Homo sapiens: one gene and its partners. The protein of the gene in region 3 interacts with the protein of the main gene of each other region in a biochemical or structural test. Each region holds a gene or a part of one and is shown on either strand. Other genes may lie near its edges.

Region 1 (7,037 bases), on a different chromosome or scaffold from region 3:
ATTACAGGTGTGAGCCACCACACTCGGACTTAACTGACCTTTTCCACGACATTAAGATTAGGACTTGGTTTTTCATCTGAGTTTCTTCATTTATATATCAGAGAAACTGTTACTTGCTTTTCCTTTCATGGGATTCTGAGAATTCAATATAAAGCATTTTTAAAAGGGTTATAGTTTCTTTCTTTTTCTTTTTTTTTTTTGAGACAGGGTCTTATTCTTATTCTATAGCTCAGGCTGGAGTGCAGTGGTGAAACTGTAGCTCACTGCACCCTTGAACTCACAGGCTCAAGTGATACTTCTACCTCGGCCTCCAAACTAGCTGCGACTATAGGCGCATGCCACCATGCCTGGCTACTTTTTAAATTTTTTAATGGAGATGAGGTCTTACAATGTTAACCTGGTTGGTCTCACACTCCTAGTGCAAGTGACCCTCCCACCTCAGCCTCTCAAAGTGCTGAGTTTACAGGTGTGAGCCATCACGTCTGGCTGGTTATAGCTTCTTGTTGGAAGGCATTTAATTAATCAGTGTCTTCTAAAACTATTAATACCCACTGCAATCAGAGTTTCTTGTTCAAGAAAAAGTTCTATTTAACAAAAGAGAAAAGAAAAATATGGTGTCCCAAAGAAAAAGTTCCTATGTCTTTTGCTTTGTTTTCTTGAATTTATGAAGCATTTACCTTTTAAGTTAAAAAAAAAAAAAGCCTCTAAAGTATATCAGATATGTCAGGGCAGGCTTCAGATGCCAATTTCATTACACATATTTTGAGGTTCTAAATATGCAAGGCACTGGAGATTCAAAGATCAGCATGGATAATTTTCTATACTTCACAGGACTAGAGAATTAAATGGAATAACATCTGCAAACCTATGAGCAAAATAGGAGAGAGAAACATAGTACAGAGAATAAAGTCTTGAAGTTCACACTGCCGAAGTGTGATTCATAGCTCTGTCACTTACTGGAACCCTGAAGTGGGATCTGGTAGTCTCTCTAGTCTGTTTCCTTGACTCTAAGATGGGGAATAATGGTATTTGTCACAAGGGGTGATTGGGCATTAAATGAGACTGTGCACATAAAGTGCATATCACAGTGCCTGGTACACAGAAAGGTCAATAAGTGCTAGCCATTTTTAGTGCCTTCCACATAATGGGTCTTAATACATGGCCCATTTTCTTTTTCCTACACTTCAATTTCTAAGAGATATTTCTTTCAAAATGAAGTCTTTAAATGATTTCTTATACCAATAATCTTTTTCTTCTGGGGCCTTCTGATATGATCTGAGACTAATACCACTCAGAATTCTATAAGGAATCAAACTCTACTTTGAAAAGACCCTTTGTCATGGGAGTCAATCTAAACAATCAAACCCCAAACAAACAGATGAATCAGAAAGTAAAAACTAAAATGACTATCAGGGTAAAGCCCAAGATTACTAGTCCAAACAGTGCCTTATGGCAGATAAAATGTGATTTGCCATATAATTTTTATTTACCCTTGTTTTTCAGCAGTAGGTCTGTGGCTTAAAGAAGGCAACATGACTGCTCTATTGAAGTTGGGTTTGCATTCCTGGTAACATTTTTCATTAATGACCGCCAGATCACCATCTTACCTGCTGCTTTGAGAAGAGCTGCCAGCCTGGTGGACCCTCTCCCAGCTGCTATATGCAGGGGTGTGGTTCCATCGTAGGTAGTACTGTCCACATGGGCATCACCCTACAATCCAGCCCACACAAGAAAGCGTTAGTGGAAGGTTCTTTTGCCCTTTTGTCCCCACCTCCCAGTGTGCATGGCTCCTTGGGTCCTATTACTAGCCCAATTGCTACTTTGGGCTGGCTCTGTCATTGAAGAAATCCCCAGTTAGAGATGCCAAGCAAGGGGGTTGGGGGAATGTCTAAAGGTGGTACTCTGAAGCCCTCCATAAATGTTAAACAAATAGAGCTGATTGTAAGGGAGAACAGCAGCTACTGACTTCCTTCTTTGAAAAGATTTCCTTAAATCTCCCTCAGAAATTTAATGCAAAAGCAAATAAGTGTGCCCTTCACCTCCAGGAGCAGGCAGCCTGCCAATGAGATGTTGTCGTGCTCCACAGCCAGGTGCAGTGCTGTGCGCCCGGACTTCTGCTCCTGAGCATTGACGTCAGCCCCAGCGGCCACCAGCAGCAGCAAACATGGCAGGCTATTGCTCATCATGGCTAGATGAATGGCATTCAGACCTAGAGTCCAAGCAAAGGGACAGTCACAGGATGGGATGGCTAACTCACAAGATGGCCCTTGTGAAGCTGAAGGAAATGGCAAAAACTGAATCATGGGGAGGGACAGTAAAGATACTATAAGTCTATTGTTCTGCTTTGAAGACCCACAGTCTCCTATTATGTTCTCAGGAGACATGAACATAAATAAACATTCTCTGAATAAACGACGCTTTGTGTACTTCAAGATGAATCTTTACTCAGGCCTCTGCTTTCTCCTCCTACTAACTATTCCAAATCATCTTTAAAAAAATTAGCTTTGGTGAGCAACAGAAATGCCCAAAAGAGATGATGAACTCCAGGTGACTAAGGAAAGCACTTTTGGGTGCAAATCAAATAACACACGTTTATCAAATACCTAGTAGATATTTAGAAGGTGGAGAAAGTTACACCAATGATGTGTGATTGTCTCTTACCGTCCCCGTTGGGGTGGTCAAGAAGTAGTGCTGCCTTTTTGTGCTTGAGTAAGATACTGAGAACTTTATCATGTCCTTCTTTGGCAGCTAGGTGCAAAACAGAGTTACCCAAGCGGTCCAGAAGGCTCAGGTCGGCCCCAGCCCTCAGCAAATCCTCCACCACATCTTCCTGCTTAGTGATCACTGCCAAGTGCAAGGGCGTCTGGAAAGTGAAAGGGCAGGAGATTCACTGGTCAGCAGTGAATACTTACTTACAACTCACAGCTTGGTAGCTGTTACTGCAATAGGTGGGGCCATACTGCAGGAATATTTCTCATTCCCAGATTAACTTCTGACCTTGGCACCCAAGTTATCCTGTTCCATACTATATGCTAATGAAGTACATATACTGTACTAACACTTAGCCATTCAATAATTCATGTTTTAAAATTCTTATTTATCTTAAATTTAATTGACAAATAGTAATTGTATATATTTATGAGGTACAATGTGATGTTTTAATCTAAGTTTACAACATAAAATGATTAAATCAGGCTAAGTTACAAATCCATCACTTCATATACTTACAATTTTTTCTGTGGTGGGTTATTTTCATATTTACAAGTCTTAATAGCTTCTTGTTTCTCACTACAACCCACTGATTGTTGATTTTGAGCACACCTAGTAGTAAATTTAGTTTTCTTAAATATCTGGTAGGAGTTACCTCCAGCTGATAATTTTATATTAACAAATCAAATTAAGGCTATGTTTTCACTGAAGAAATTTAAATAAAGTACTCAATAGAAACCAATTAACAAAAGTGCCATGATTCTATGCTGACATGGAAACTAAATTTACTAAATTAAAAAATACTGTCCCATGGACTGGCTCCTGAGACCAGTCAATATAGCTTTCCTACACCCATTTCATAAAAGGTATTATAAGATTCTAAATAACATAACCAGGATAATACAAGTATCTCACCAAGGGGGCTCAGCTGAATAAAAAAGGTGAGCTGCTGATACCTAATAGGTACTTAAATAGTCCATTTGACTATCCTGCCCACAAGGTATTACTTCGGTGAATGCAAATAAGATGTTTTGCAAACTGTGTGTTTTCAAAAATGAGTAAGACAAATACAATCACAAACGTATCTTTCAAATAACTGAGTTCACTGACAGAGAACAGCAATGTATCTTTATACAAATCAGTTTATTTCACAGGAGCCTAACTATGACATCCAGCCAGTCTTGTGACAATTTGCCTAAAATTCCCTTTTCATTGAGCAGTTACTGGCTACAGCAGCAGGTGAGCCACCAACCTCCTAGCTGTGTAGGTGACCACAGCACATGATAACTGGCAGGATGAATGATGGGAGGGTAGTCTAAATCTCAACTACAGTGATTATTTACTATACAAGACCCTTTTTTTTTGCCAAATTATTACTTGCCCTTATTTCTTTCATTTTCTAGGACTATCAACCTGGCCTGAAATGAAGTGATGTCCTCAAAACTTTAGATATTGTTGCCAAGAGCCTTCTTCTCAAAAATAAGTCAATGGAAACTGTGTTTACTAATCTGTGTTTTCTGAAATGCTACTTGGGGAGATGGGAAAAGGAAAGAGAATGAGATTGTGAAAAAAGGATCTGAAATTATAAGATAGTATACCATTCAGGAATTATAAATTATCTGTAGCTTGAATTTAATTAAAAAATATCTTATGAGTCGGAGAGGTTTTTTTTTTTTAATATTTTCTTCCACAGTCCAATCAATGGTTTTCCATGATATAAACCTTCTAGTTCTTAAATCCAAGGATTATATCTTAAACAATTATACCTTCATGCTATGGCTGTGGGCATGGGGACTTACACAGACATTCTGGAAAGCCAAATATACAAATGTCCCAGCAACCCAACTCTTGCAGATGTATCTGGGTGAAATTCTGACACAAATCCACAAGAGGACATAAGTGAGGACAGTCACTGCAGTATTATCTACTGAGGTAGGAAGTTAGAAGTTGGTTAAATGTCTACTACTAGGAAACAAGGATGTTATAGGTGAAAGACCCATACTAGATTCTCTTCAGGAGCTGAAACAACAAACTAGCTATATGTAGAACTGTGTGGATAAGCAGTGAAGGCAGAAATACAGTAACATGTAGCACAATGCCACTTAGGCATTTAAAAAATATATGCACAAAGAACTATACAGATACACACAAGTGTGTGTAAAACTGGTGAAATCTGATTAAGATCTGTGGATTGTATCAACGTCTATTTCCAGGTTTTGACACTGTTCTGAGGTTATGCAGGATGTTACCATTGGGGGAAACTGGGTGAAGAGACCTCTGGTTTCCTTGCAGTAAATACTAGGACTTCCTAGTACGTTTTTGTAACCTCCTTTGAATCTATAATTAAATTAAATTAAAAAAATTTTAAAGGTTAATGCAAGGCAAGAGAAGTACATTTAATATAATGTGGATTGTATGTGAGAGTATATGAAAATATCTATGTATTTCAAGTATACGTACATTTGTATCCAGTACTTGAAAAACTACCTATAAACACAATAGTGACATTTGTGCTAGCAGACCTGGGCATTGTCAGGGTGGGCAACTTTGACTTTCCAATGTAGATTCTTCTGTACCATTTTTAAAACTATGAATATACATGATATGTATAATAATTAAAAACATAAAAATACATAAAACCCTCCAATAATGTTTTATGGGAACATACACAAATAAAACAATCCATACCAAACACGATAGAGTGGTTGTCTATGTTGGGGGAAGGAGAATGAAAGGAGAAAAAGGCTTAAAGAGAATATTTTCATAAAAAATCCTAACTCGGTGCACTTGGACTATTTTGAGTGTGTTTCTAGAGGGTGGGTGGGGAGAGGAATTTGATCATGACAGATGGTCACAGAAATGTACTTAGATTAGTGAAAGGTATTTGGGAAGAATGCTTAACTGTCAAATAATCCAAATTATTTAGAGAACTGTATCATTTTCCATTAAGAATAGTTACTAGAGAACCTTTACAACAGATAATCAAGAGTTCAAATCTTAGCAGTTTCTAATTCTCAAATCAAAGTTGCCATTGGGTGTGTGTTTGACACCTAGAAGGCATACTAGGGAAGCCAGAATCACTGCCCATTAATCAGACTGGTGGTAAGGTAGGGGAAAAATGGACGTATAGTCTTCTGAGAGTCCCCAAATCAGAAGGGATAGAAGTATCAATGGTGGCGGTTTCAGGGTTTTTGTCTCTAACACACTGGAGAGTCTCAACATATGTAACCAAATGATACAGTAAAGAGTTTAGGATATAAAAAAAAAATCATAGCTACTGGCCAGACGCAGTGGCTCATGCCTGTAATCCCAGCACTTTGGGAGGCCGAGGCTGGCAGATTACGAGATCAGGAGTTCAAGACCAGCCAGACCAACATGGTGAAACCCCATCTCTACTAAAAATACAAAAATTAGCTGGGTGTGGTGGTGCACGCCTGTAATCCCAGCTACTCAGGAGGCTGAGGCAGAAGAATCGCTTGAACCTGGGAGGTGGAGGTTGCAGTGAGCCGAGATCGCGCCACTGCATTCCAGTCTGGGTGACAGAGTGAGACTCTGTCTCCAAAAAAAAATCACAGCTACTAATCCTGTTGTGCTGTGTCCTTTGCAGATCCTATTTATAAACATAAAATAAGTAATTCCTTGAATATGACTGTTAAGCAGGGTTTGAAAAGAGGACTGACAAGCTACAATGTCCCATTCCTGGTTTTATTCATAGATTTGTGATGACTACAAGGAACAATCAGCCAAAAGTCTGCGAGAATCAAGCTTTACAGGCAAAATGACCTTACGGATACCAATGACCCCAAAACGGTATGAAAGTTTCAAGAAGACATCCTTTAAATGTAAATCTACAATCACACTTCATACTAGTTATTTTATATTAACAGGCAGTGAAGAGTCACTAACTTTACTTTTCCTTTGACAAGAAGCACAAGAGCCAGTGAAGAAGCCTAATGGTGACTTATATTGAATGAAAAATGGTCATTTTCCCCTATCAGGAAACCTATTAATTTTTACCTAGTCACAGGTAAAAACTATTAAGAGCCACATGTAAACGTTTTAGTAGTTTTGCTTTAAATGCACTTTAAAGCACACTTTTTTTTTTTTTTTTGAGACAGAGCGTCACTCTGTCACCCAGGCTGGAGTGCAGTGGCGCGATCTCGCCTCATTGCAAGCTCAGCCTCCAGGTTCACACCATTCTCCTGCCTCAGCCTCCCGAGTAGCTGGGACTACAGGCGCCTGCCACCATGCCTGGCTAATTTTTTTTTTTTTTTTGTATTTCTAGTAGAGACGGGGTTTCACCATGTTAGCCAGGATGATCTCGATCT
Region 2 (7,037 bases), on a different chromosome or scaffold from region 3:
AAATCAGCACCCTCATACACCGCTGGTGGGAATGTAAAATGAGACAGCCTGTGGGAAACAGTCTGACAGTTCCTCCAAAGGTTAAACATAAAAATTACCATGTGATCCAGCAATTCCACTCCCAGGTATCTACCCAAGAAAAATGAAAACAGATGTCTATATGAAAACTTGTACATGAATGTTCATAGCAGCAATACTCATTAACAGCCCAAACAAGAAACCCAAATGTTCATGAACAGACGAATGAATAAAATGTAACATGTCCATACAATGGAATATTATTATCAAGAGGAATCAATTGCTGTTACCTAGCACATGATTGAAAATGACATAACATAAATATAAAATGTCCAGAACAGACAATTTTTTTTTTTTGAGATGGAGTCTTGCTCTGTCGCCCAGGCTGGAGTGCAGTGGCGCGATCTCTGCTCACTGCAAGCTCCCCTCCCAGGTTCACGCCATTCTCCTGCCTCGGCCTCCCGAGTAGCTGGGACTACAGGCGCCCGTCACCACACTTGGCTAATTTTTTGTATTTTTAGTAGAGACGGGGTTTCACTGTGTTAGCCAGGATGGTCTTGATCTCCTGACCTCGTGATCCGCCCACCTCGGCCTCCCAAAGTGCTGGGATTATAGGAGTGAGCCACTGCGCCCAGCCCAGAGCAGACAATTATAGAGACAGAAAGTAGATCAGGAGCTGGAGAGGCAGGGTGGATGGGAGAATGGCTGCTCATGGGTATGGGATTTGTTTTAGGGTAATGAAAATGTTCTAAAATGGATTGTGGTAATGGTTGCACAACTCTGTGATATACTAAAAATGACTAAATTGTTCACTTACGTGGGTGAAGTGTATGCTGTGTGAGTTACATCACAATAAAGCTGCTTTTCTTAAAGGCAGAACTGAGGCAGGGATTGTCCTCAATGAACCTCACTGTCTGGAGCCAGTTCTTATGTCTTAAAGATGTAATTTAAGGCCAGGCGTGGTGGCTCACGCCTGTAATCTCAGCACTTTGGGAGGCCGAGATGAGTGGATCACTTGAGGTCAGGAGCTCAAGACCAGCCTGGCCAACGTGGTGAAACCCCATCTCTACTAAAAACACAAAAATTAGCCAGGCATGGTGGTTCTTGCCTGTAGTCCCAGCTACTCGGGAGGCTGAGGCAGGAGAATTGCATGAACCCATGAGGTGGAGGCTGCAGTGAGCCAAGATCGCACCACTGCAGTCCAGCCTGGGTGACAGCAAGACTCTGTCTCCAAAAAAAAAAAAGAACTCTCACTTGTAACCCTTAGTGCCTGCACACTACACTTGCTAACCAAGCGAGTGAACTGTGTTTCCCTCAGGGATGACTTCACTTCCCTCTTCACGTTCTGGCTTATAACAGGCTCTGTAGTGGCAGCAAAGCTGACTCCATAGTGGAATGACAGACACGTGAGCTCAGTGGCTTGGAAGCTGCTGACCTGAAACATAGGAAAATGTCCCTTCCACAAACAGTTTTAGCCCCCGAGTCTGCCTTGAGTACTCTCCACTAAGTGACACGAAGCAGCTTCTGACAAGACTACCCCTGTCTGAGAAATGCCACATTCCTGGAAAGATGTTTTTAAAAGGCAAAGCACTCTAACAACAGGCACGCAAGTCTGCGCAAATCCACACGCACAAGCAGAAGGTGTGACTGTAGCAGTGACGCAGGGTGCAGGCAAAGGTGGGAAGCGGTGGTTTCCTTCCACTTTTCTTTTTACCTGTTCCGCGAGAAGGTGCTGTTGCCTCTGAAGGAACTGCTGTTGCTGTAAATGCTTTTGCTGCTGCTCCCTTTGTTTCTGTTGGTCCAAAAGCAACTGATGCTGCTTCATTACAGCGGCCTGTTGCTGGCTGCTGAGATAGGGGGAGCTGTTGTGGGAGCTGGCCACGGACACGGCAGGCGGCTGGGTCCCAACACTGGTAGCCTGGGCTTGCACAGGGACACTGGAAGGGTTCTGCTCCTGTCAACACAGATAGGGGACTGTGAAGTCTCTAAGCTCTGATCAGACCAAATAAGCTCCATCCAGTGAATTCAAGGTTCACTCTCTTGAAGCCAAGTCTCTGCTTCCCTTCTGACCTCGAATAACAACCATCCCACAGGGCTGGAGCACAGACCAAAAGTGATGACATCTGAGCATACAGGCGCCTAGCAACGAACAATTACTCCATAGGTGTTAGTTTTACTCCCAGTGATTCACCAGTGACAAAGGTATGGTTTTACGTTAAGCATATGTAAGCTTTCATATTTGCACACAATAGTTCCAGTAAGCAATCGAGGCTTAGAAATGCTCACTTATCAGGACATCTGAGTGCAGAGCGGGCCAATAGGGGAAGAATACTTTTTGTTTTTTTTCAGACGGAGTTTCGCTCTTGTTGCCCAGGCTGGAGTGCAATGGCACGATCTTGGCTCACCGCAACCTCTGCCTCCCGAATTCAAGCGATTCCCCTGCCTCAGCCTCCTGAGTAGCTGGGATTAGAGGCATGTGCCACCACACCTGGCTAATTTTGTATTTTTAGTAGAGATGGGGGTTTCTCCATGTTGGTCACGCTGGTCTCGAACTCCCGACCTCAGGTGCTCCACCCACCTCGGCCTCTCAAAGTGCTGGGATTACAGGCATGAGCCACTGCACCCGGCCTAGGGGAAGAACACTTTGAAGGGGGCTTTGGTCAATGGAGACCACTCTGTCCCATGTGCATAAACCTTGGATTTCGGGCTATCCCTGAACGACCCGAAACTGTACATCTGCGCAAGCATTTTACTGGAAGAGACTGCTTAGCTTTTGTCAAATACCCATCCTCAAAAAATACTGAGAATCAATGAGAACTTTAACAGATATTCTCTGTCAATATATAGACCACAAGTGAGAGTCATGTCAAAGGCCACCACAATATTATCCCGTCATTACTGACACTTAGAAGAAAAGGGGAACTTAGCAGAAGATAGGCAAAAAGCAATCATTATTTAAACCAGTTCAAATTGTTGAGCTCCTTTCTAGTTATTCATTCTAAGATTCTGGTATAATTTCTTCACTCTAATCACCAGAAGCTTAAGAACTACTGAGAGTGCTTCGTAAGTTGCAAAGTGCTACCCAGATGGCAAGCACCCTCACTGTGTGCAGCTGAGCCTCTCTTCAGGGGGTGCTGAACGGCGTGAGACATCTTACTGGCTGAAGTAAGTGGAATTATCAGCACTGGGAGATGCTTAAATGGCTTACAGTTTTTGGCTATTAGAAATAACCACACAATGAATATCTTGGATATAACTTTTTCTTTTATTTTGGATTATTTCTTTAGATCAACTTGTCGGGTATATAGTGTGTCAATGCATATGAACATTTTACAGCATGTGAAAAATACATAATGTCAAATGACTTCCCAAAAGCAGTGAGCTCATTTACACACTCTCATCAATACAGGAGTGTGTCTATTTCCTCATGATATTACCGGCACTGGGCTTTTTAATTTGCAAAATTTTAGCATGTATTACAAATTCACGTTCACTGCAGGCTTATCTGCACTAGCGGAAAACAGGAAACAACCCGAAGGGCCATTTTCCATTTGATGCTACCGGGCTTTAGAACCATGATGAAGTAAGCACAGAGCTGAGCTGTGCTGGGAAGCAGCACATGCCTACAATGTTATAAGCTTACCAAAAATTAGGGAATTTTGTACATGGAGATCTGAAAGGTAGTAAAAAAAAAAAAAAAAAAAAAAAGCCAAGCCTCTAAGAAGCACGTGAAACGTAATGTTTATCTGCAAAACACAGTCGCAAATTACTTAATTTAAATCCTACGGCACGAAAGAGACAGTGGACTAAATGCAGGTGATTCCTGAAACCTTCGTGCAGTTAATAATCAAGCTATGCCAGGGAACTTTACCCTATTTTTTATTAACAATCAACCCTGGTTTATTTTATAAATTTCCACTCCCAAGAGGAGCAAGGATGACAGCAGCTATTCCCTCCTCCCTCTTCCCACAACTACCTCGGATCCAATTAACATCCAAAGTAGTGAGTAACCTCACTGAAGTGTCTGCAGCAGAGGAACAGAAAGCAAAGGCTCATACTTACCTGGCCAGGTGGAACCAGTGATCGGAAAGGCATATTTCCTGGCTTTGGCTTCATCAGAAACAGGGAGTTCTGCTCGTGACTTATATGGGACAGCTGCTGGGGAAGATAAGCCATCAGGGCTGGCTTGCTCTGGCCAGACCCCGGGCTGCCTTGCCCACAGTCCGCTTTGTAATGAGAAAGGGGTTTTGTATTGCCGTAGTCCAGCACAGACCCCTGGTTATTCGCGGAGTTCTGATTCAAGTTACTCGGTGGCTGGTGACTCAGCAGGTTCACATGGCTGGGCTGGAGGTAGGGGCCTCCGGGCCGAGGGGAACTCTTATTCACACTAGGCATCATGAGCAGTTTGGAGTTAGTGAAGTCTTGCTTGTAGCTGGAAGGGCTGGCAGGCTTCTCCATGGGGTAAGGGACATCTAAGGAACTGTGGGAGGGCCCCGTCTGCTGCCATGTGGACATCTGGCCCGGGGCTGGTGCCGGGGTGGCCTGCTGTGGGTTCTGGAGCATCTGCTCGCGCTTCTGCTTGGCAGCGATCTGCTGGAGCTGGTGGGCAGAGGACAGCTCTGAGGCCCCTCCTGGGCCCTGACTGGGCAATACCACACCTGCAAGGGCTCTTTGTGCGTTCTGGGCCTGGGCTGATGCCGGCATCAGGTTTGGACTGGGATTGTCCGCCCGGGGCTGACCAGAGGTGTGGAATAAGGTTTGGGAGCCCCCTAGGCTGGGGGAATCTGTACTCACAGGGGCAGAGGAAGGCCCCAGAAAGGTCTGCCCTGCAGACCCGGCCCTCACTTGTGGAGAGCCTAACTGTTCTTGCTCAAAGGCTGCTGGAGAGAATTCCGTCTTAATATTAATGTCCTGTGCCAAGGGGGTTTGTGTGGCAGAGCCAGAAGACTCTGGGTCCTTCTTCTCCTCGAAGTCCTCATTAAACAGGTCCTTCATGTCTTCATCGGGCACCGACCTGTTCAGCTCCTCGATGAGCTCCTTCCACTCCTGCTCGTTAAGGTTGAGGTCTGGCATGAGGTTGCTTTGCGATATGGAGCCGACAGTCCCAGTGATCATGCAAGGCAGGTCTTCGACAGGCTCCTGCTTCAGTTCTTTATTCAGGCTCAGAGGAAATGACTCACTGGGGTTACTGCCTCCATTCAAGTGAAGGCTGGAGTCAGCCAGACGCTTTTTGTTGAGAGAGTCTAGCCCCAGAGAGTGCTTCCCACTGGACTGCAGGGCGTCGGCTCCAGAAGGCTTGTCAGACTGACCGAGGGGGGAGGCTGGAGGCAGTCCATTGGAAGAGATGGCAACTCCCAGAGGGGCCTCCCGGCGAGTCTTCTTATGCCCAGGAAAGAGGTCCCCGTAGCCATTCTGTTGATCGCCATTCTGAGGGGAAGTGGCGCTGTCAAGATTCCTCTTAACTGTATCATGAAGATGCTGAAAAACATTGAAAAGAATGACTTAAGATACATATGAATTTGCTCTGCTATGACAGTAACAAGCCAAGGGCTGATGTCCCTGCAATGCTCGCCAGTGGGTTCTGCTTGCATAGTGTACACTCCCATTTCTGGGGACACACCTCCATTTTCCCTGACGGTCCTATACCTGGCCAGTCAGAACTGATGTCTAGCTAAAGTGCTTCTGCAGTCCTCTTTCTGCAGGAGACAGGCATGAGGCTGCCCACAGCCATCTCGTCTGGCGGTATGCCCAAGAATGGAGCCAACAAAAAAATGCCAGAGAGTACACACACACACACACACACACACATATATATATTATATATATATATATGTTTTGAGATGGAGCCTTGCTCTGCCGCCAGGCTGGGTGGAGTGCGGTGGCACAATCTCAGCTAACTGCAACCTCCGTCTCCTGAGTTCAATCAATTCTCATGCCTCAACCTCCCAAGTAGCTGGGATTACAGATGTGCACCACTGTGCCTGGCTAACTTCCGGTATTTTTTGGTAGGGACGGGGTTTCACCATGTTGGCCAGGCTGGTCACAAACTCCTGGCCTCAAGTGATTCACCCGTCTCAGCCTCCCAAAGTGCTGGGATTACAGGCATGAGCCACTGTGCCCAGCCCCTCACTTTTTTTTTTTTTGAGACAGAGTTTCGCTCTTGTTGCCCAGGCTGGAGTGCAATGGCGTGATCTTGGCTCACAGCAACCTCCGCCTCCAGGGTTCAAGCCATTCTCCTGCCTCAGCCTCCAGAGTAGCTGGGATTACAGGCATGTGCCACCATGCCCAGCTAATTTTGTATTTTTAGTAGAGACGGGGTTTCTCCATGTTGGTCAGACTGGTCTTGAACTCCAGACCTCAGGTGATTTGCCCACCTCAGTCTCCCAAAGGGCTGGGATTACAGGTGTGAGCCACTGCGCCCGGCCGGCCCCTCACTACTTCTTATTGGGACTATTTGCTTGAACATAATCTGTCTGGTGTGACACTGTGACTCTGCTTCCCATCTGCTCCTCGATGGATTCATGCCACTGAAGTTATTAAGATTCTGCCTTGTGCCAGAGACAAGTGCTGTGGGGAACATAAAGACAAAGAAGACAGCTCCTCCTCGGGTGGGCTTTCAGGACATGGGACATACACAGACAGGGCTACAGAGTGAGAGCAGCACACAGTAAGTACCCTGGGAGTTCAGGGGCGGCGATTTCAAGATAAGAACATGTCAGAAGGGATGGGAAGGGGACAGAAGACGGACTCCTTCTACTGCTTCCTCACCTGCATGTGCTGCAGTCAGGACTCAACTCCACTGCTCAGAGGGAGTGCCTATGCTCAGCTTCCAAACACATGCTGCTCCTTTCCTGTGTTTACTTTATTACGTTTTTGTCCTTTATCCCCCACCCCCAGTACCATCCCCCCTTCCCATAAACCCTAAGCATCTATAGCATGTTATTAGAAAATGTTCCAAGTAACAGCCCTCATTATTATCTTTAGACAGGATTCAGAGGAGACGGGGAGCCCCCTGTGCT
Region 3 (7,037 bases):
CACAGTAGCTGCCTGTGTAGCCCGCCTGGCAGCGGCAGTGGTGCGTGTTGCCCGCGTCCACACAGAGCCCTCCATGCTGGCACAGGCGGGCAACGTCAACACCTGCGGGGGATGGGGTGGTAGACAGGTGAGGCCCAGGCCCACAGAGGACCTTGATGGGCTGGGACCCGAGCTGGGTGGGCACAGCAGGTTACCTTGTCGCTGCGCAGCCACCTCACAGGACACGCTGGGCACGTCGCAGTAAAGGCCGGTCCAGCCGCTGGGGCACTCGCAGCGGTACTGGGTGTGGGTCTGCCAGCATTTGCCGCCGTTCTTGCAGGGCGAGGAGTCACACCAGTGCACAAGGTTCTGGGGACAGATTGGGGTCAGCTGGGTGCCCGCGCCCCGGCCATTTCCCCGGTAGCTCAGAACGCACATCTGCCAAGGGGCCTACTCCAACCCAGGCTGCAACCCATTCTACAGAAGTGGAAACTGCCGCCCCTGGACTCCCCACCACCCCCACACCAGGAACAGCCTGGGCTGGGTCTCCCTCAGGGCCCTCAGCAGGTCCAGACCACCCTCGGCCTTTGCTAGAAGGAACACTTTTCCTCAATTCCCCAATTCCTGAGCTCCTGCCCCGGCTCCAGAAACCTGGGATTGAAACGAAGGTGCCTGCTGCTTCCGCATCAGGTTCCTTCACCGGCTGCTCAGATCCCCAGAAACCCTCTGCCCGGGGGTGTGGGGGTGACCCCGAGCCGACACAGTGGGACCTGGGGTGACCGTTCCCACCTCCCGCAGGTAGGCACCCACCCAGGGCCCCTCCTTCGGGCACCTCTGTGGCCGGCGCACTCACCTGGCAGTTGGGGCCAGTGTAGCCCTGGGGGCAGGTGCACCTGTAGGAGCCGCAGCCGTCCTGACAGGTGCCGCCATGCAGGCAGGGCTGTGAGTCGCACTCATTGACATCGTGCTGGCAGTAGCTGCCCGTGAAGCCGGGTGGACACAGGCAGGTGAACGAGTTGATGCCGTCCACGCAGGTGCCACCGTTGAAGCAGGAGCTGCAAGGGGGTGGGCAGGCGGGGGCTGAGTGGAGGGCATTGGTGGGTCCCCGCTCCAGCAGATTCTGCCTCGCCAGCACCTCCCCTTCTGCTCAACCCTAGGGGCCTGATGGCCAGGACAGGCCCAGGGCAGCCTGGCTGACCCAGGGAGGCCAGTGGGAACCCGGGGCCCGGCTCTCACACCACGTCACACCTCCCTCCCCTGCTTTCTTTATAAGTCAGGTCGAGAGTGGTTTTACCAAACGCGTGGGCATAGGGTGGTTAAAGTAAATGAGGGAGAAACCAGAAACCGTCCTGGTAACACGGGAGGTAATTACGTCAGAAACCAGGGACGAGACTGACGTTTACCAAATGAGCTTCCTGGCAAACACGGCAAAAAGGAAACAAGAACGGACAGAGTTCTCGTTGTCTAATAGAAGGAAGCGCACCAGTTCTTCAGGACAGACTACCGGCGCTCCTGGTGCGGGACACAGGAGGAGGTCACAATGGCCCTCTCAGGAGGGACAGGTCGGTACAATGAACAATGTCTGGACTCAATGCAGCCAGCGCTAAGTGCCCAGCCGGCCTAGGCGGACGCCTGCATGGTGTGCCAGGCTGCCAGCTACTGCGTGTGGCCCGCACCGCCCGTTCCCTTCCACGGCCTCACTCGAGCCCCGCACACCTCTCTGTGCAGTCAGGCGTGTTGTTCTCACAGTGGATCCCGCTGAAGCCTGCGGGGCAGGTGCACGTGTAGCTGTCCACGCAGTCCGTGCAGTTGGCCCCGTTGCGGCAGGGGTCACTGGCACACTCGTTGATGTCCTCCTCACAGAAAGTGCCCCGGAAGCCGGGCAGGCAGTCGCAGAAGGCCGTGTTGATGCCGTCTGTGCAGGAGCCCCCGTTGTGACACGGGTCTGGGAGAGGACGGAAGGGTGAGTGTGAGGGGCAGGCACAAACCCACACCTGCGGGAGGGGGCCGGGAAGGCTGCATGGCTGGGGACAGCCCAGCCTTTCGTTGCCGAGGCTGCGGCAAGCAGCCCTGTGACAAAGGTGTCTGGTGGGGAGCCCCAGCACCCACAGGCTGCGTCACACCCGTCTCCTGTGCTTGGGGTCTCTCTCCCCACCTGCTCCTGTCCTCAAGCTCCAGGGCAGGGGGCAGCTTTGCAGGCTTCACAGACCGAGCAGGGGAGGAGAGACAGTTCTTGCCTCTGCCTGCCAGGTGATGCCAGCAAGACCCCCGGCTTCTGCCAACCTCAACCTCTGTGAAGCAGGGCTGGGAGGCCTGAGAGCCCTGGCCTGCAGCGGGGCCCGATGAGCCAGGCGGGAGTGCAGGCCGGGCCCGAGCCATCCTCGGCTCAGTGAAGAGCCGTGGGAGGGGCTCTCGTGACTCTTCCGCGAAGTGCAGGGAGGAGCAAGCCGGCTCTGGGGCCCTCCTGAACCACCCTGGCCATCCCTCAGCACATCCCCCACACCTGACCCAACCCTCCCCGGCCACACTCCGGCCTCCCTGGGTGCTTATGGCCAGCACCATGCGCACCAACCCTGCCCGGGGGAACTGAGGCCTGAGAGCTTCCTGGAGGAGGCCAGAGCCGCGGGGCTACTCACTGGGCCGGCAGTCGTCGATGTCGGTCTCGCAGTTGCGCCCACTGTAGCCGGCCTGGCAGTGGCAGCGGTAGCCGCCGTGGGTGTTCTGGCAGGATGCGCCGTGCCGGCACGGGCTCAGAACGCACTCGTTGATGTCGACCTCACAGGTCTGCCCTGCGGGGCAGGAGGAGGCCGGTTGGTCACCAGCGGCCCCTGGCCCTCCAGGCCCTTCCCAGGCTGGCCCACCCACCTACAGTGCCTCTCCCGACCCAGGAGTAGGCTTCCGTGACCCCAGGACCATCCCCTCTCCCCTAATTTTGGCCTAAGAAGGTCACAGGAACTGGAGTTGGGAACGGTGCTCCCAGGTCAATTCCTGATTCCAGAACTTCTCCGACCAGGGCCTCCTCAGCACCCACCAGCTCCTCTTCAAAGACTCATCTAGCCTGCCTGGGAGCTGCCTGTGTCCCGCAGACATCCTGACCTCCCATCCCAGCCCTCACCGGGCCCTGGCCAGCCTCACCTTGCCAGCCCGTGGGGCAGACACAGGAGAAGCTCTCATAGTCCTCGGATTGCCTGCACTCCCCGCCGTTTCTGCAGGGGCTGGGGGCACACGGGGCCAGCACCACCTCACACGTGGCACCTGCGGGAAGGAGACACACGTGACCCCGGGAGCCTCACCCAGAGGGATCTCCCAAATCGGCCACCGCCTGCTGGTCTTTCCGCCATCAGAGTGCCGTCTGCTGGTCCCGCCGGGAGGCAAATGTGCACCGAGACCCCTGAGCGCTCCCGGCTGTGCCAGGACCCTGACCCAGGGAGGAGTGGAGCACAGATGGGGGGACGCTGAAGACAAGCTGCACAAATGTCACGCTCAGAAGCCACCCCTCATTCCCGGTTGGCAGCGGGGCACAGCCTAGGCCTCACCCCACCAGGCGTGCCCAGGAACAAGGACTGCACCAGGAGAGGCGGCCTCAGTCGGGTGGGCTCCACGACACTGCAGGGACCTGGGCCCACCCCGGACGCAAGCCCCCTCATCTCTGGGTGACGAGGAAAGGCCCTGGCCTGAGACCGAGGCCTGAAACTAATCCTGGGGCTCCGTGTCACAGGCAGCAAACGCCCATCACGGGAGGCCAACAAACAAGGGCTGCGATGGAGGGGACAGGCCCAGGCCCCCAGCACATCCTGCGTGTCGGGGCACGGGGCACGGCCTGGAGACCTCCAGGGCCACGCAGGGTGTCTGGCAAAGGCTATGTGGGAACCACGTGCACAGCCGAGGGCCTTTTTCTGCACAAGCCCATGGCCGAGCTTCCTGTTTATAGCCGTGGGGACTGCGTTATCTTCCCTGTCCCCCATTATCTCCCTGGCCTGCTGGGGCGACTTTCCAGGGCCTCTCTTCCTATTGGTTTCCACGGTGACCCGGGCAGGCAGGAACTGCGCCAGAGTTTCCGACAATTGTGCGAAAGGAAGCAGGAAGCGGGCAGATAGGAAGCGGGTCAGCACCGCCGCTCCTCCTGCCGGCCCGATCGACGTGTCTGAAAGGGACAGGGGCGCCCAGCCGTGGAGGGAGGGTCCTCACTGACTGACACAGGAGAGAAAACCCAGGTCCTTAACTTCGGTCAAAGAAAACAGCGTTCTGGCCACAGGCTGCTGGATGTCATGGGAACCGCAGGCGTGGGACCTCCAGCCCGGCTGCCTGGCCCAGGCAGGCCCTCCCTGACCAGGCCCCGTGGCAGCACCCTCTGCCCGCTCCTGGGGAGCGCCAGGACCCCGGTGCTTGTGGACTCTTCTTTGTCTTTTCTAGAGGAGATCATTTCCTGTGATCCCCTTGGCTGGGTTCATAGCAGGGGCTGGACAGTTGGGGGAACATCCCCCTCCCCGCTCAGCCCAAACAGAGGGCTCCTTGTTCCGCTCACACAAAGAGAGCCCGCCATCAAAGGAATCCCTCAGGTCCGGCTGGCGGGGGTGGGGAAGCCCGGCCCCCAGAGACCCCAGCAGGGTGGGCGCCGGGAGCACGGAGCCCAGTGACCCAGGCCCGGCCCTGCTAAGGATTCACCTGCATCTTACCTGTGTCTTGCGGCAGGCTTGCCAGGTAAAACACATGCTTGCATGAAAATTTTCTCCCAGGCATCCTGTATCTTTGCTAATCTGCCAACCCCACCCCCGGGAGAAGGCCCACATACTGCAGGGGCCTAAGGCACTCAGTGAGGCGCAGAACCTTCTGGAAGGCCCCGCCCCAAGAAAGCCACCACTTTACCCTCCAGTCACGGCTTCCCAGGCCGCCCCCACCCCTGGCCCCACCCTCTCCAGCACAGGCTCCGCCCTCTCCAGCACAGGTCCCGCCCCTCCCACATAGGCCCCGCCCCCTCCAGCACAGGCCCCACCCACCCCTCACCTGTGTAGGGCAGCAGGCAGTTGCACTTGTACCCGGCAACGTCGTCAATACACGTGCCCTGGTTCAGACATGGGTTGGACGCACACTCGTTGATGTTGGTCTGGCAGTTGGGACCTGGAGGGAAGGGGACAGCACTCGGCATGTCCAGCACTCCCAGGCACCTTGGCAGGGCCCCACAACAGCAGCCCTGGGCCTGCTCCCCACCCCAGGCCCCTCCTCATCTCCAAGAGCCAGAGGCCTGGAGCTAAGGCTTTGCCACGGGAGGGAGACACCATGCATGGTGCTGGCTGGACCTGGGTCCCGATCCTGTGTCTCCAGCTCCCCAGACTCGAGGGCGGCCCTCTGCACTGAGAAACGCGCAGCCCACTCACCGCTGAAGCCCTCCCGGCAGGTGCACACGTAGCCACTGGTCATGTCTTTGCAGGTGCCGCCGTTGACACAAGGGTTGGATTCACACTCATTGTTGTTGATGTCACAGTTGGTCCCACTCCACCCAGGGTCACAGTCGCACTTGTACCTGCAAGGGGGACCACACTGCAGGTCGAGGGAGGCCCGAGCAGCACGGCCGGGGCCTGGGCACTCCCGGGTCTGCAATGCCCTATGGGCTGGCGGAGGTGCCCATCCACTCAGACTCGCAGAGTCCTTTAGTGGGGGCAGGCTGGGCGCTGTGGCTCACACCTGTAATCCCAGCACTTTGGGAGGCGGGGGTGGCTGAGTCACTTGAGGCCAGGAGTTCAAGATCAGCCTGGCCAACATGGCGAAACTCCCCCACCCCATATATACTAAAAATACAAAAATTAGCCAGGTGTGGTGGCACATGCCTGTAATCTCAGCTACTCGGGAGGCTGAGGCAGGGGAATCACTTGAACCTGAGGGGTGGAGGTTGCAGTGAGCTGAGATCATGCCATTGCACTCCAGCCTGGACAACAGAGCAAGGCTCTGTCTCAAAATAAAGAAAAAAGTGGGGGCCGCAGCGCTTCCCATACCCAAGACTGCGGCAGGGGTTTGGTTCATTAGCGAGGGGACCATGCCAAGTGCAGGGCAGTAGGGTGCTGCGAAAAGCCCCCCACCACTTGCCCGCTGTGTGGCCCCGAACAAAGCACGTGCCTTCTCTGCGCCAAATGAGGGCAATGGGGTCCCTGCTGATTTAAATGGTCCCATCCAGGCAGAGTGCTGCCAGGCACATCATGGGCATCAGAAACACTTGCGGCTGTTACCATGGAAACGTGTTCCAGGGTCACTGTGGGCCTGTGTCCTGAGCACACCATGCAGCCCACAAGGACACGCAGCACACAGCTGCTGGGTGTGGACTGTAGTCTGACTGAGGACCCAGAGGCATGTGCGTCCCCGAGGGGAGCTCCCTGCCACCCAGCCCCGTCCGAGGCCCGTTTCTGGCCCATCTCAAGCTCTGTGCAGGTGCCACCCTCCTGGCAGCAGAGCTCCCAGGGTTTAGGACTGATGTGTCCCCATGATCGGCCCCGCCGCATACCCGTTGAGGCTGTCCCGGCAGGCCCCGTGGACGCAGGGGTTGCTGTTGCACTCATTGACCTCAGACAGGCAGGTGGGGTCGTGGTAGCCCTCGGGGCAGCGGCAGGTGAAGCCATTGATGCCGTCCTCGCAGGTGCCCCCGTTGTGGCAGGGGTTGCCCGCACACTCATCGATGTTGATGTTACACATGCTCCCTAAGGGCAGGGCGGGTCAGACTCCGAGGCCCAGCGCCCAGGGGGTCCCACCCACGTCAACCTCGATTTCCCTGTCTGTTGAGCCGGGGCGATCACCCTTCTGGCCACATCCTTCCAGGTGTCAGAAACCATCTTGGATCACAATGTGCCATGTGCCAGCCTCCCCGGGCACCAGTGCCCACTCAAGTCATCCTCCCAGGGGCCCCAGGGGCAGGGGCTACTGCAGCCCTGACTGATGAGAATCTGAGGCCCAGAGAGGCAGAGGGACCTGCTCAAAGGTGCTGGTGAGCCACAGAGGCAGAAGGTACTTAAGCCTGGCCTCAGGGCTGGCTGCTCCCTCTTGGCCTGCTGGGCCACTCTGCCAACACGGCC

Evidence for each region. Proteins that work in one complex are often made in the same cells at the same time.
Region 1: the proteins of NOTCH1 (region 3) and NFKB1 form a complex in vitro, tested with the Homo sapiens proteins (2 studies listed by BioGRID).
Region 2: the proteins of NOTCH1 (region 3) and MAML1 form a complex in vitro, tested with the Homo sapiens proteins (2 studies listed by BioGRID).

What each region holds. Positions count from the first base shown.
Region 1 is NC_000004.12:102,602,322-102,609,358, reverse strand, and holds part of NFKB1 (nuclear factor NF-kappa-B p105 subunit), read right to left. Parts: intron 6,845-7,037; exon of another isoform or gene 6,373-6,844; intron 2,864-6,372; coding exon 2,662-2,863; intron 2,210-2,661; coding exon 2,040-2,209; intron 1,711-2,039; coding exon 1,608-1,710; intron 1-1,607.
Region 2 is NC_000005.10:179,763,785-179,770,821, reverse strand, and holds part of MAML1 (mastermind-like protein 1), read right to left. Parts: intron 5,497-7,037; coding exon 4,081-5,496; intron 1,973-4,080; coding exon 1,733-1,972; intron 1-1,732. UniProt on the Homo sapiens protein: Acts as a transcriptional coactivator for NOTCH proteins. Has been shown to amplify NOTCH-induced transcription of HES1. Enhances phosphorylation and proteolytic turnover of the NOTCH intracellular domain in the nucleus through interaction with CDK8.
Region 3 is NC_000009.12:136,508,038-136,515,074, forward strand, and holds part of NOTCH1 (neurogenic locus notch homolog protein 1 preproprotein), read right to left. Parts: intron 6,666-7,037; coding exon 6,473-6,665; intron 5,501-6,472; coding exon 5,355-5,500; intron 5,098-5,354; coding exon 4,984-5,097; intron 4,705-4,983; exon of another isoform or gene 3,235-4,704; coding exon 3,115-3,234; exon of another isoform or gene 2,993-3,114; intron 2,769-2,992; coding exon 2,616-2,768; intron 1,943-2,615; exon of another isoform or gene 1,925-1,942; coding exon 1,696-1,924; exon of another isoform or gene 1,436-1,695; intron 1,035-1,435; coding exon 833-1,034; intron 349-832; coding exon 195-348; intron 103-194; coding exon 1-102. UniProt on the Homo sapiens protein: Functions as a receptor for membrane-bound ligands Jagged-1 (JAG1), Jagged-2 (JAG2) and Delta-1 (DLL1) to regulate cell-fate determination.